2 separate regions of the Homo sapiens genome follow, and region 1 is linked to region 2. The links come from fine-mapping of genetic effects on gene expression. A gene starts in region 2. The other region holds a variant in brackets. All regions are shown on one strand. Distances are from middle to middle. Region 1 overlaps HECW2 (HECT, C2 and WW domain containing E3 ubiquitin protein ligase 2). Region 2 holds the start of STK17B (serine/threonine kinase 17b).

Region 1 (5,381 bases), 38 kb after region 2:
TTGGCAGAGGTATCTTTAAATAAGGCAGGGAATATAGGAAATGGGTAGAGGGACAGATGATGAATTCAAGGGCGTGAAATCAGCATGAGAAATCCAAAGTTACCAATTAAATAGAGTGATCGAATTCCATTAAAGGAATCCAGTTATAGTTTTGTTAGCCTGGGTAGCTTTATTAACACAACTAATGGTAAAACTTGTTAGAATTTTTAAAATATTCATAATTTATCTAATATCCTCATGAATACCTTCTTAGGCCATGAGGTTTAGAGCAGAAATTCCTATTAAGAGTAGGGCACAAATATGTGTGTAACTTATGGCAGCAGAGCACAATGCCCTGACCTTCACCAGGTGTTCGGTAAAGGTGAATTCATGGAAAGAAATTCTATGGTGCTTGCTATTCCAACTACTCATTGGTCATGTTCCATTTTGGGACCAATGATGTTGGTTATCTGTTCATGTAAATATCCATTGCTTCTCTCCCTGTGTTTTAAGGTCAACGTATATCTCCCACAAGGTTCGGCACTTAGTAAAGCCATGAGGAGTATCTATAGACGGGTGAGGGGAATTAATCTATTCACTAATTAATGTCTTATTCCAAAGTCTCATTAGGTCACTTTGGTTAAGGTGCACTTGGATCTGTAAATACAAAGTGGAATATTCCCATAGGGGGGAATTCCTGTATCTGGGGTAACTAGCAGAAGAAACTCTTCAAACTATGCATTCTGAGCAGGTACCTTCTTCACTTGTGAATGCCTCTGGGGAGAGATAAAGAGGGTACATACTTTTCAAATGTAAGAATTTAAACCAAACAGAACAAAGTCCAGTAAGGACAGTTCCAGGAATGGAAACCCCTGTAAGTCCAAACAAAATACAAACACGCTGGGTGAATATGGCACATTTCTCACACACCTAAAGACTATAAAGTATCCGGCCAGCCCTGAAGGCTAGATATTAGGAAGAATAGTAAGAATGGCTAAATTTATTGAATGATGTTTTAGGCCTTATTCTAAGCACTTTGCATGTTATCTCATTTAATCTTCAAAACAACTTTGTAATATAAATGCTAATTTCTATCCCAACTTTTCAGATATGGATACAGAGATATGAAAGTCTGGATTATGATTTTGGAATTTCTTGTCTGGAGTGGTCCAAAGTTATCCCTAAAGATTTCAAATTCACTAAAAACAATATTTATGGAGTACATGTGCTAAGCACTGGGCTCACTGCTAGGAGCAAAGCCATGTTTAATTCAGATAAGGTACTTGTTCTCACAGGATTATACTCCAGAGGAGGAGACAGATAATCAACAAGTAAACCAATAACTGAACATGATGACTGAATTGGGTCAAGCCTAGTGAAGGAAGTAAGGGGTGAAAGAGTGACAGGTGCACTAAGGACAGAAGCCTGGTGGGCCTTTCTCAGGAGATCACCTCTAACCCGAGTCTTGGGGACAAGAAAGAGCCAGGCATGAAGGACCAGCAGATAAGTGTTATAGGCAGCAATTCCCTGAGCCTTGAAGCATAATTGAGTTTGGCATATTTGAGGAATACACAGAAGGAGGCTGGTAGGTGTCATGGGTTGGGGGAGAGGGTACATGTTGAGGTTGCAGGAGGAGGCAGACCAGGGCCCCACAGGAAGTCCTTGGGAAGGAGTCTGGATTTTATTCTAAGCCACCAGAGGGTGTAGGCAAGGGAGGGAGGTGACCTTGAGATGTTTGCAGATCCCAGTGGTTGTTGAGTGCAGAATGAATGAATGGTGGGATGCAGGAGAAGCAGGGGATTTAGCCAGCAGTCTACTGCAGTAGTCCAGGTGAGGGGGGATGGTGTCATGGACTAGGCTGGTGGAAAGAAATGAGCCCAAACTGGTTTTTGCTCTTGAGGCCAAGGAAAAGTGGGTAAGCATTCTTTAACTGTTGCAATGTCTGTCACTCACAAATAGACACTTTAAAATCTGACTTGTGAAATAGCTCTCAAGGACCTTTAGTAGATTTGACTTGGACTATCCTGTCCTCTGTTGTCAGCAGCAACAATGCTGATGGAATGCAAGTGGAATGATTATCTCATTCCATTAAAGTCACAAATTCTTTCAATAGCTTGACGTTTTACATTAATTACAGAAGAGTCCCTTTTTTTAATACAATCTGTTTTTATGATAAATTTACCCACCTCCCAAAGTAAAGACCAATCCAAAAGGTATATGACATTTAAGAATCTTTAATATGGTGATGTGATGGGTTAACTCTGGCATGTTTTTGTTAGTACATGCAGATTCAATGGCAGAATAAAGTGAAAATTTAAAATACAGTTATATAGAACTGAGTGAGAGGGCAGAGGGGAAAGGAGTTGAAGAGAGTCTTGGACCTGAGGTTCAACTACAGAGCAGACCACTGTATGAGAATCTCCTGTCAATTCTCTCCCACACGAAAAGCCACATCAGCTCATCAGCAGGCGGTAGGGAATTAGGAAGACCAACGAGGGACACCTCAGGGCAAATATAGAAAGGAGATGGCCCCAAAGGGTCCTTCTAGTACTCATCTCTTGTTCTGATGGTTTTTCTTTCTTTCTTTCTTTTTTTTTTTTTTTTGAGACGGAGTCTGGCTCTGTCGCCCAGGCTGGAGCGCAGTGGTGCGATCTCGGCTCACTGCAAGCTCCGCCTCCCGGGCTCCCGCCATTCTCCTGCCTCTGCCTCCCGAGTAGATGGGGCTACAGGCGCCCACCACCACGCCCGGCCAACTTTTTGTATTTTTAGTAGAGACGGGGTTTCACCATGTTAGCCAGGATGGTCTC[C/G]ATCTCCTGACCTCGTGATCTGCCCACCTTGGCCTCCCAAAGTGCTGGGATTACAGGCGTGAGCCACTGTGCCCAGCCTGGTTTTTCTTTTAATTGAGGAAAGTGACATTGTATTTCAGGACTTGGTTATTTTCCGGTATACTGGCTGATAATTCACTTTGACAGTAGACAATGCTCCCTATAATGGAGGAGGGAAAACTGAATTATTGATAACATTACAGAGCAATATTTAATGACATGGAAAGATGTTCCATGTGATAAACGGAATGTTGTTTTAAAATGTGTGTGTGTGTGTATGTGTGTGTCTGTGTGCCTGTGTGTACCTGAAGAAATGAGTGAAATCACATACTCTAACATGTTAACAGAGCTTATCTTAGTAATTGACTTTTTTTTCCTTCAGAAATGGTATCTCTCTATGTTGCTCAGGTTTGACTCAAACTCCCATGCTCAAGCCTTAGCCTCCCAAGTACCTGGGACTCCAAGCATGCACCACCATGACCAGCTAGTAGTGGACATTGGGTGGACATTGGATTGATACATATGTAGGTATTTTAATATATATTTAATATATACATATATTTCTTAGCAATTTTTTGTAAAATTTTCTTTTTATAAATTAGAATAAAAAGCAGATTTTTTTTTCTTTTGAGATGGAGTCTCACTCTGTCACCCAGGCTGGAGTGCAGTGGCATGATCTTGGCTCACTGCAACCTCCACCTCCTGGGTTCAAGTGATTCTTCTGCCTCAGCCTCCCGAGTAGCTGGGATTACAGGTGCACACCACCATGCCTGGCTAATTTTTGTATTTTTTTTTTTTTAAGTAGAGATGGGGGTTTCACCATATTGGCCAGGGTGGTCTCAAACTCCTGACCTCAAGTGATCTGCCTGCCTTGGACTCCCAAAGTGCTGGGATTTCAGGTGTGAGCCACTGCACTCTGCCAAAAAGCAGAATTTTAAAAACAAAAAGTTGTTATGTTTTTAAAAAATAATTTTATCTTTTAAAGTTCTATTCCATTAGATTAACTGTCTCCATAAGACATCTATTTCATAATTAACTCTTACAATTTATTTCTTAATTTCAGTTAGCATTTCATTCATAATAATCTCCAGACACAGCCATTTTCAAAAATTAACGCTTTTCCCTTTGGCAATAACCAACACACCCCCATGACGATTGCAGCTCTCAGGTCCTCCGTCCCATCACCCAACTTGGCAAGAACCTGGGGGATGAACACAGAAACTCACACCATGGTGGGAGACAGGACTGCTCTGCAGTTTTCAGGCTGGCATCTTAGCAGCGCATTTTTTGGACTGTTTGAGAGCAATTGCCACAAAGTGAATGTACTCTCTTTTCATAAAGTCCATCAGAGCACCAGGGGTATGAAGTCTTCCACAGAAATGCAAAATACAGAGCTAACCACCGACCGCGAAGCAGAGGAAGTGCAGTCATGTGCTCAGGCTGTAGGTCTCCATGGAGACACCCTTCTGTCTACATCCTTATTTATCATCTGGGTCTCTAGTCACTTCATAACCACAAGAGGAAAAAAGAGCCATGGATTCAACTTGCACTGGCTGCAGAGACAACCATATATACTTTTATATACTCCTTGACTCATACTGTGAGCAGCGCTATCCACTGCTACCGCAAAGTGAGACTAGGAAATCTGAGAAAAGAATGAGACTCACATTTGCCTGCTTGAAAATTGAAAGGCCCTCCATCATCCTTGTCTAGAAAGACTAAGATTCTCTCCCTCATTGCTCCGGTTGCCAGGACTGCCCTCATCCTTTACAGCCCCTCCAACCCTCCAGGGCAGAAACTCCCATGCCCGACACAAGACCATGCCAGACTTCTTAGAGGATTCTTTTTTTTTCTTTTTGAGACAGAGTCTTGCTCTGTCGCCCAGGCTGGAGTGCAGCATTGCCATCTCGGCTCACTGCAACCTCTGCCTCCTGGGTTCAAGCGATTCTCCTGCCTCCCGAGTAGCTGGGACTATAGGCGTATGCCACCACGCCCAGGTAATTTTTGTATTTTTAGTAGAGACAGGGTTTCACCATGTTAGCCAGGCTGGTCTCAAACTCCTGACCTCAGGCAATCCGTCCGCCTTGGCCTCCCAAAGTGCTGGGATTACAGGTGTGAGCCACCATGCCCAGCCAGGATTCATTTTTTAAGTAAGAAGGACATCTATCCATTTTTCTCCCATGTGTGCAATGTAATTTTTTTTTTAATTTTAAGTTCAGGGGTACTTGTGCAAGTTTGTTATAGAGGTAAACCTGTGTCACTGGGGGTTTGTTTTACAGATTATTTTGTCACTCAGGTATTAAGCCTAGTACCCATTAGTTATTTTTCCTGATCCTTTCCCTCCTCTGACCCTCCACCCTCCATTAGGCCCCAGTGAGTGTTATTCCCCTCTATGTGTCCTTGTGTTCTCATCATTTAGCTCCCGCTTGTGAGAAGATGTAGTATTTGGTTTTCTGTTCCTGTGTTAGTTTGCTAAGGATAATGGCCTCCAGCTCCATCCAGGTTCCTACAAAGAACATGATCTCATTCTTTTTTATGGCTGCATAGTATTCCATGGTATATATGTACCATATTTTC
Region 2 (5,381 bases):
GACATTTGAAGTTTTCCTAAGTGGAAAGGTAGTAGATAAATGACTGCTAATGTTTCTGACAAAACAAATACCCATACAGTGCAGAAGATTTCTTTATGAAAAGAAGAATCAATCAGTATCCTTTAAAAGTAGTAAGCCTAGGAATACTATTTTTTTTTTTTTTTTTTTTTTTTTTGAGACGGAGTCTCCCTCTGTTGCCCAGGCTGGAGTGCAGTGGCGTGATCTCGGCTCACTGCAACCTCGGCCTTCCGGGTCAAGCAACTCTTCTGCCTCAGCCTCCCGAGTAGCTGGGACTACAGGCGCGCGCCACAATGCCCGGCTAATTTTTGTATTTTTAGTAGACACGGGGTTTCACCATATTGGTCTCGAACGCCTGACCTTATGATCCGCCCGCCTCGGCCTCCCAAAGTGCTGGGATTACAGGCTTGAGCCACTGCGCCCGGCCAGAATACTATTCTTAACTGCCAATCTTACATACAGAAAATGTGAATTACAATATACTATGCATGCAATTTTAAGGCAATTTAACGATTAAGTGAAAGTGTTATTAACTGAATTCCTTGACTTCTTGTGTCTCTAAAATTAAAGCAAAAATATTTTCATAAGGAAATTCTCCCTTATAATTATCAAAGAGCTTTAAAACATGTTAAAATGTTCACTTAACAAAAGTAAAACAGAGCAAGCTTAAAAATAAAATTATCTGATTAGAAACGTCAGCCATAAAAATGCTTGTATCTTCTTCAAATTTGTTACTCATATGCTAACACAGCGATTAGTCAAACCTCCAACTTCCTAAAAACGCATTCTATCTTAACCAAATCGTAATTCACTAATCAATGATCCCAAGAGAAACCGCAACCATTCTATTCACACACAAAAAAGGATGGTCTTCAATTACAGAAATTCTACTTTTAAAAAGTCTTGCCATGTAAGCAAATATATTTCACCTCAATTTTGGATCCCTACTTTAGAAAAAAAAAAAGATCTAAAATGTACAATATGTATCTCAAAAATAAAACATCTATTAATACCTCCAATTATTAAGATACTAGAAAAAGTTTAATTGAGCATCTGCTCAGAGGAGGAGGATCCGAGGCAGATGAGTTTAAAACTTTTGCACCGCTTCTATGGACCAGTTTTCTTAAAAAATACACAATCCTAGGGGTACACGGTCTAATATTTATAAAATAAGCACTTGTTGAAAATTACTTCCGAACAGTTCACCATAAAACTAAAAAACAGTGTTATCAATGAGAAAGTAGGTTTATTTTCCTTTAATAAAATTGTGCTCCTGGGTTCAAAATGCCAGGTTACATACGCTGCCACTCATTTCTACAGAGCTATGCTGTCTCCGCGCAGACATTCTCATAGACTTGAAAACGTAAAGTGGCCACACCACGTCAAACGTCCCTGGCAAGGTTCTGCTTATCATTAGCACCACAGATGTAAACATTACGTCGACAAAACAATCGGTGAATGTGATACACAGTCCTCATGTGTTTAAATATTAGTGAAATCTGATAAGTATTACGATTTTAAAAACGTATTTTCTTAATTCCAATTTCCAAATTGATGTCAGAGTGCCTCTAGTCCAGACAGAAACTAATGCCAGCTACCAGCTGCTATAAAGCCTCTTTCAACTTTGTCTCTACTTCTCCCTCGGAGGAAATTCAAATGAAACGCTTTTCCCTACAATAAAACAAAGAGCCTGGGTAAATGTCAAAAATCGTTGGCATCCAGTAGTGGTATAGTTTGAGGATGAGTCGTGCACACTAAGTGGGTCACAAGGCATCAAAGCAAAAATCAGATCGCTGAAAATCACGGAAACAGCTGTAGCCCGTCTTGATCTCTCGCTGGTTTTAAAACACTGTTCCCAAGCAGTAACTGAAAACGTCCCACAAGATGAACACGAACTTTCTCTAGACGAAAGGCAGCTGGGAGCAGGACGCGTCCACGAGTCCCGATGGGAACGCGCCCACGCCGCAGCTGGGACTCGGGAGAGGCTAGGGGGACCGCGTGGCCTTGCTGTGGAAGGGACCCGCGCGGGCCCGCCGCGAAGGGGGCCCTGCCTGGCGCGACCTGGGGAGAGCCGGGGCCGGCCGGGTGGAGGGCGCACGGGGACACACGGACACGCACAGACACAGACACGCGCCCCGGGCTGAGGAGGGTGGTGGGAGGACCGCCGGCCGCCCCCCGCGCGGAGCCCCAGGGAACCCGGACTCCAGCCGCAAAGCGGAGAGGCGCCAGCAGCAATCAGCCACCTCAGGGGCGGCGGAGTCCAAGCCCCTCTCAGCCGGACCGTACCGCCTAAACCCTCCTCGGGTCCTCCTTCCTCACGTATGAGGTCTCTGTACCGAGGCGGCTGGTTCCATCGCAGCCCCGAGCCAACCCGCCAATCCCGCAGGACACTAACCGCTCCGGCCGCCGCAGGTTCTCCCGGGACTGCCCCCTCCAGGGGGCCGCTGTCCCGCCCCACGCCGGGGGCCGCCACAGGACGAGTTCTCTAGCTCCAGCCGGGCGAGGCGCCAGGGAGCTCCGAACGTGGCAGGATCCACTTTTACTTTTCCAGACAAGGGCCGACGGTTGTGACCTGGCTTCTCGTGAAGTGACTCCTGGCGACAGCAGCGGAGAGGACTACCGAAGCTTGCAGTCGCGGTTTGAAAACTGCAGCCGCGTCTGGGGCATCGCCGTTCGCCAGATCCCTCCCCCTAGGTCGGGAGAGCCAATCGGAACGGGTGCGGAGGGTGGGTCTGTCACGTGACGGGAGGGGCGGGGCACCGGCCGGGGGCGCGTGTGCGGGGCGGGGCCCGGCGGTGAGAGGGTGCGGCGCCTGGCTGGCCCGAGGCGGGGCGGGGAGGCGCGGCGGCGTGGCGGCGCAGGTGGGGCGCACTCGGGCTGCCGCGAGGGAGGGGCGGAGGGGGCGGCGCTGCAGAGGGGGCGCGCGGGGCTGGAACTACTGCTCTGTGTACTCCTTCCCACCTTCAGAGAGGTCAGTTCGAGAGGTGTGAATATCCGGAGACCGGGGAGAAGGAAGCCGCAAAATTCGTCCCAGCTGCCTGCGACTAGTTACCAAACTTCAGTGCCTACCAAAGACCTATTTTCTGACTCTTCTTGAGAGTCTTCCTTAGGACCGGAACGTACCCTGTAAGTGGAGAACCCAGTTTGCTACAACTTGGCAGAGGTTCCTCGGAGTGTCAACATCAGTTGGGGATTTATGGAACCTAGACCCCACTGCTAACGTCCGCTGTCGCGAATGGTGTCCCTTCTGAGGCACTGACTGAAGGCAGTGTAGGGAGGGTCCCAATAGGCTGAATAGCCGATTTTGCATTTATAGTGCTAAGGAAAAAGATGAAAGCCCTCAGCAACCTACTCAAGATCTGTTATCCTTTGAAGACAGTGGAAATTTTCAAAGTTCTGTGCAAGACACAAATGTTTTACATAGATATATAATCCTAGTTTATATGTATAGGATACACACATACTCATACATATATGGGATTAGTTATGTAATCTAGGATTGCTTTCAGAGGACATTTACGATAATTGCAGAAAACCCTTCCGTGGGAAAGGATACTGGGAGTGGAGTCGTCCTCTTGCTTTCAAAAGACTTAATGTTCAGTTAGCATATAAAGGACAGGTTTTCTTGTTCTATCCCAGTAAGCCAAGCAAATTCCTGTGAAGCTAGCTGTTTCCCTTTCCTACTGCATTTTCCCCAAGATAAAGGTATAGAATGCATCACAGCCCTTTTATGAAGTCTGTTTGTTGTTACTTAGGTTAACTCCTCCTCCCAGGTTAATAATGTCTTGCCCCTAAACCTTGTCAAATGGAGAATATTGCTTCCATCTATCTAATTTCTTGTTGCTAACAATTGGGCTGACTAGAGAAGCCTAAAGTTAGGATGAAAATAAAATGCCACACACTGGAATTAACTTTTCTGGGGTATAAGAATCCGTAAGCAATGAGACTGTTCCCATCTTTTCTTTCATGAGCATAGGTGTTGCATTCCAGAGGTCTCAGCACCAGTACCAAAACTAGTAACCTCTTGGGGGTCACAGGATTACATCATTATGGTGGTTTTGGGGTTGTGTGTTTAACTTTGGACCTCCTTAATTTCAACATTTCATCAATTGCCAGCTTTTAGCAATCTTCTCACACTCACCCCATACTCCCCGTCACTAATCCAGTCCCAGATCACTTCACACCTAGACACAGACTTTTCTCTCTCTGGCACCACTGTAAGCCAGTCCTCTTGGTCACAATACCTCTGCTGTAACCAGCCAGCCTCCTAGGGATATTGTCATGTCTTGCATTTTCCTGCTTCTGCCTTAGCTCCAGCTTATCACCATCCTCCTCATCCATACCTGTTCATCAGTTTCTGACTTTAAGAAGGTTACCCTCTTCAGGAATCAGAACTCTGCTGATTCCTACTTTCTGTTCCCAGCCTGATCACCTCTGCCTTATGTTCTTTGGTGCAGGGCTGATAGTTTGTGTTTCTTTTATGACCCTAAATAGATTGTTAACCCTTGTGCCTGATGTCAGATTTGTTAACTAGGACTTACCACACTATCCCAAGGACATTCAACTACACTTACTTGGTCTCAGGCACTGTGGTTCAAGTAACAAGGAATTCCTGGTGCTGAGGAGGAGGCAGTACATCTGTGGCCTTGCAGGAAAATTCAGAAGTCAATACATTCCTCCATCCACCTCATTTACCTAAACTCATTCATCACCGTGTCAAAGATATATGTTCCTGCTCTCATTCCCTTGAGTAGGAAATCTCCAGGTGACCTGATGGTCATTCTGTGGTCATTGCTTCTGACCACACAGTTCATTAAGTTGACCATCCTTGAATGACACATTCCGACCAGGGATGGCGGTTGTTATGGGCTCAGTTGTGTTCTTTTCCAGTTCATACGTTGAAATTCTAACCCTCAGGAACTCAGAGTATGACCGTATGTGGAGATAGGGCCTTTAAAGAGGTAATTAAGGTAAAATGAGATAATATGAGTGGCCCCTGATCCAAGATGACTGGTGTCCTGATAAGAAGAAATTAGGACACATACAACACTGACTAAGGGACCACCCTGTGAGGACATAACAAGAAGGTGGCCATTTGCAAAGCAAGCAGAGAGGTTTCAGAAGAAACAAGACCTGCTGATATCTTGATCAACAGCCTCTAGCCTCCAGAACTGTCTGTTGTTTAAGCTGTCCGCTCTGTGGTATTTGTTATGGCAGTCCAAGCAAACAAATACAGTGGTCCTCCTGGATCACTCCAGGTTAGTAATCACACACTGACTGGGAGCGATGATCGTTCCCAGTCACTGCTTACCACATGTGGCCAGGGAAGGTGATCCTCTCCGGTAATGGCACGACACTCACCA

Evidence for each region. PIP is the estimated chance that this variant, and not a neighbour inherited with it, causes the effect.
Region 1: its variant is fine-mapped to the expression of STK17B in whole blood (INTERVAL, PIP above 0.99). The same link has a PIP of 0.9 or more in subcutaneous fat.

What each region holds. Positions count from the first base shown.
Region 1 is chr2:196,207,199-196,212,579 of GRCh38, forward strand. The region is part of intron 28 of HECW2 (HECT, C2 and WW domain containing E3 ubiquitin protein ligase 2); the gene reads right to left. Among named protein-coding and RNA genes, the nearest start is that of STK17B, 38 kb to the left of the region's middle. RefSeq lists an enhancer at 4,528-4,577. The variant C/G (reference allele first, on the strand shown) is at 2,787.
Region 2 is chr2:196,168,920-196,174,300 of GRCh38, forward strand. It overlaps STK17B (serine/threonine kinase 17b), which reads right to left and starts at 2,659. Exons shown (of 8, transcript NM_004226.4): 1 at 2,414-2,659. It overlaps LOC101927454 (a long non-coding RNA gene), which reads left to right and starts at 2,620. Exons shown (of 2, transcript XR_923737.2): 1 at 2,620-2,712; 2 at 2,986-3,929. RefSeq lists silencers at 1,985-2,204, 2,725-2,954.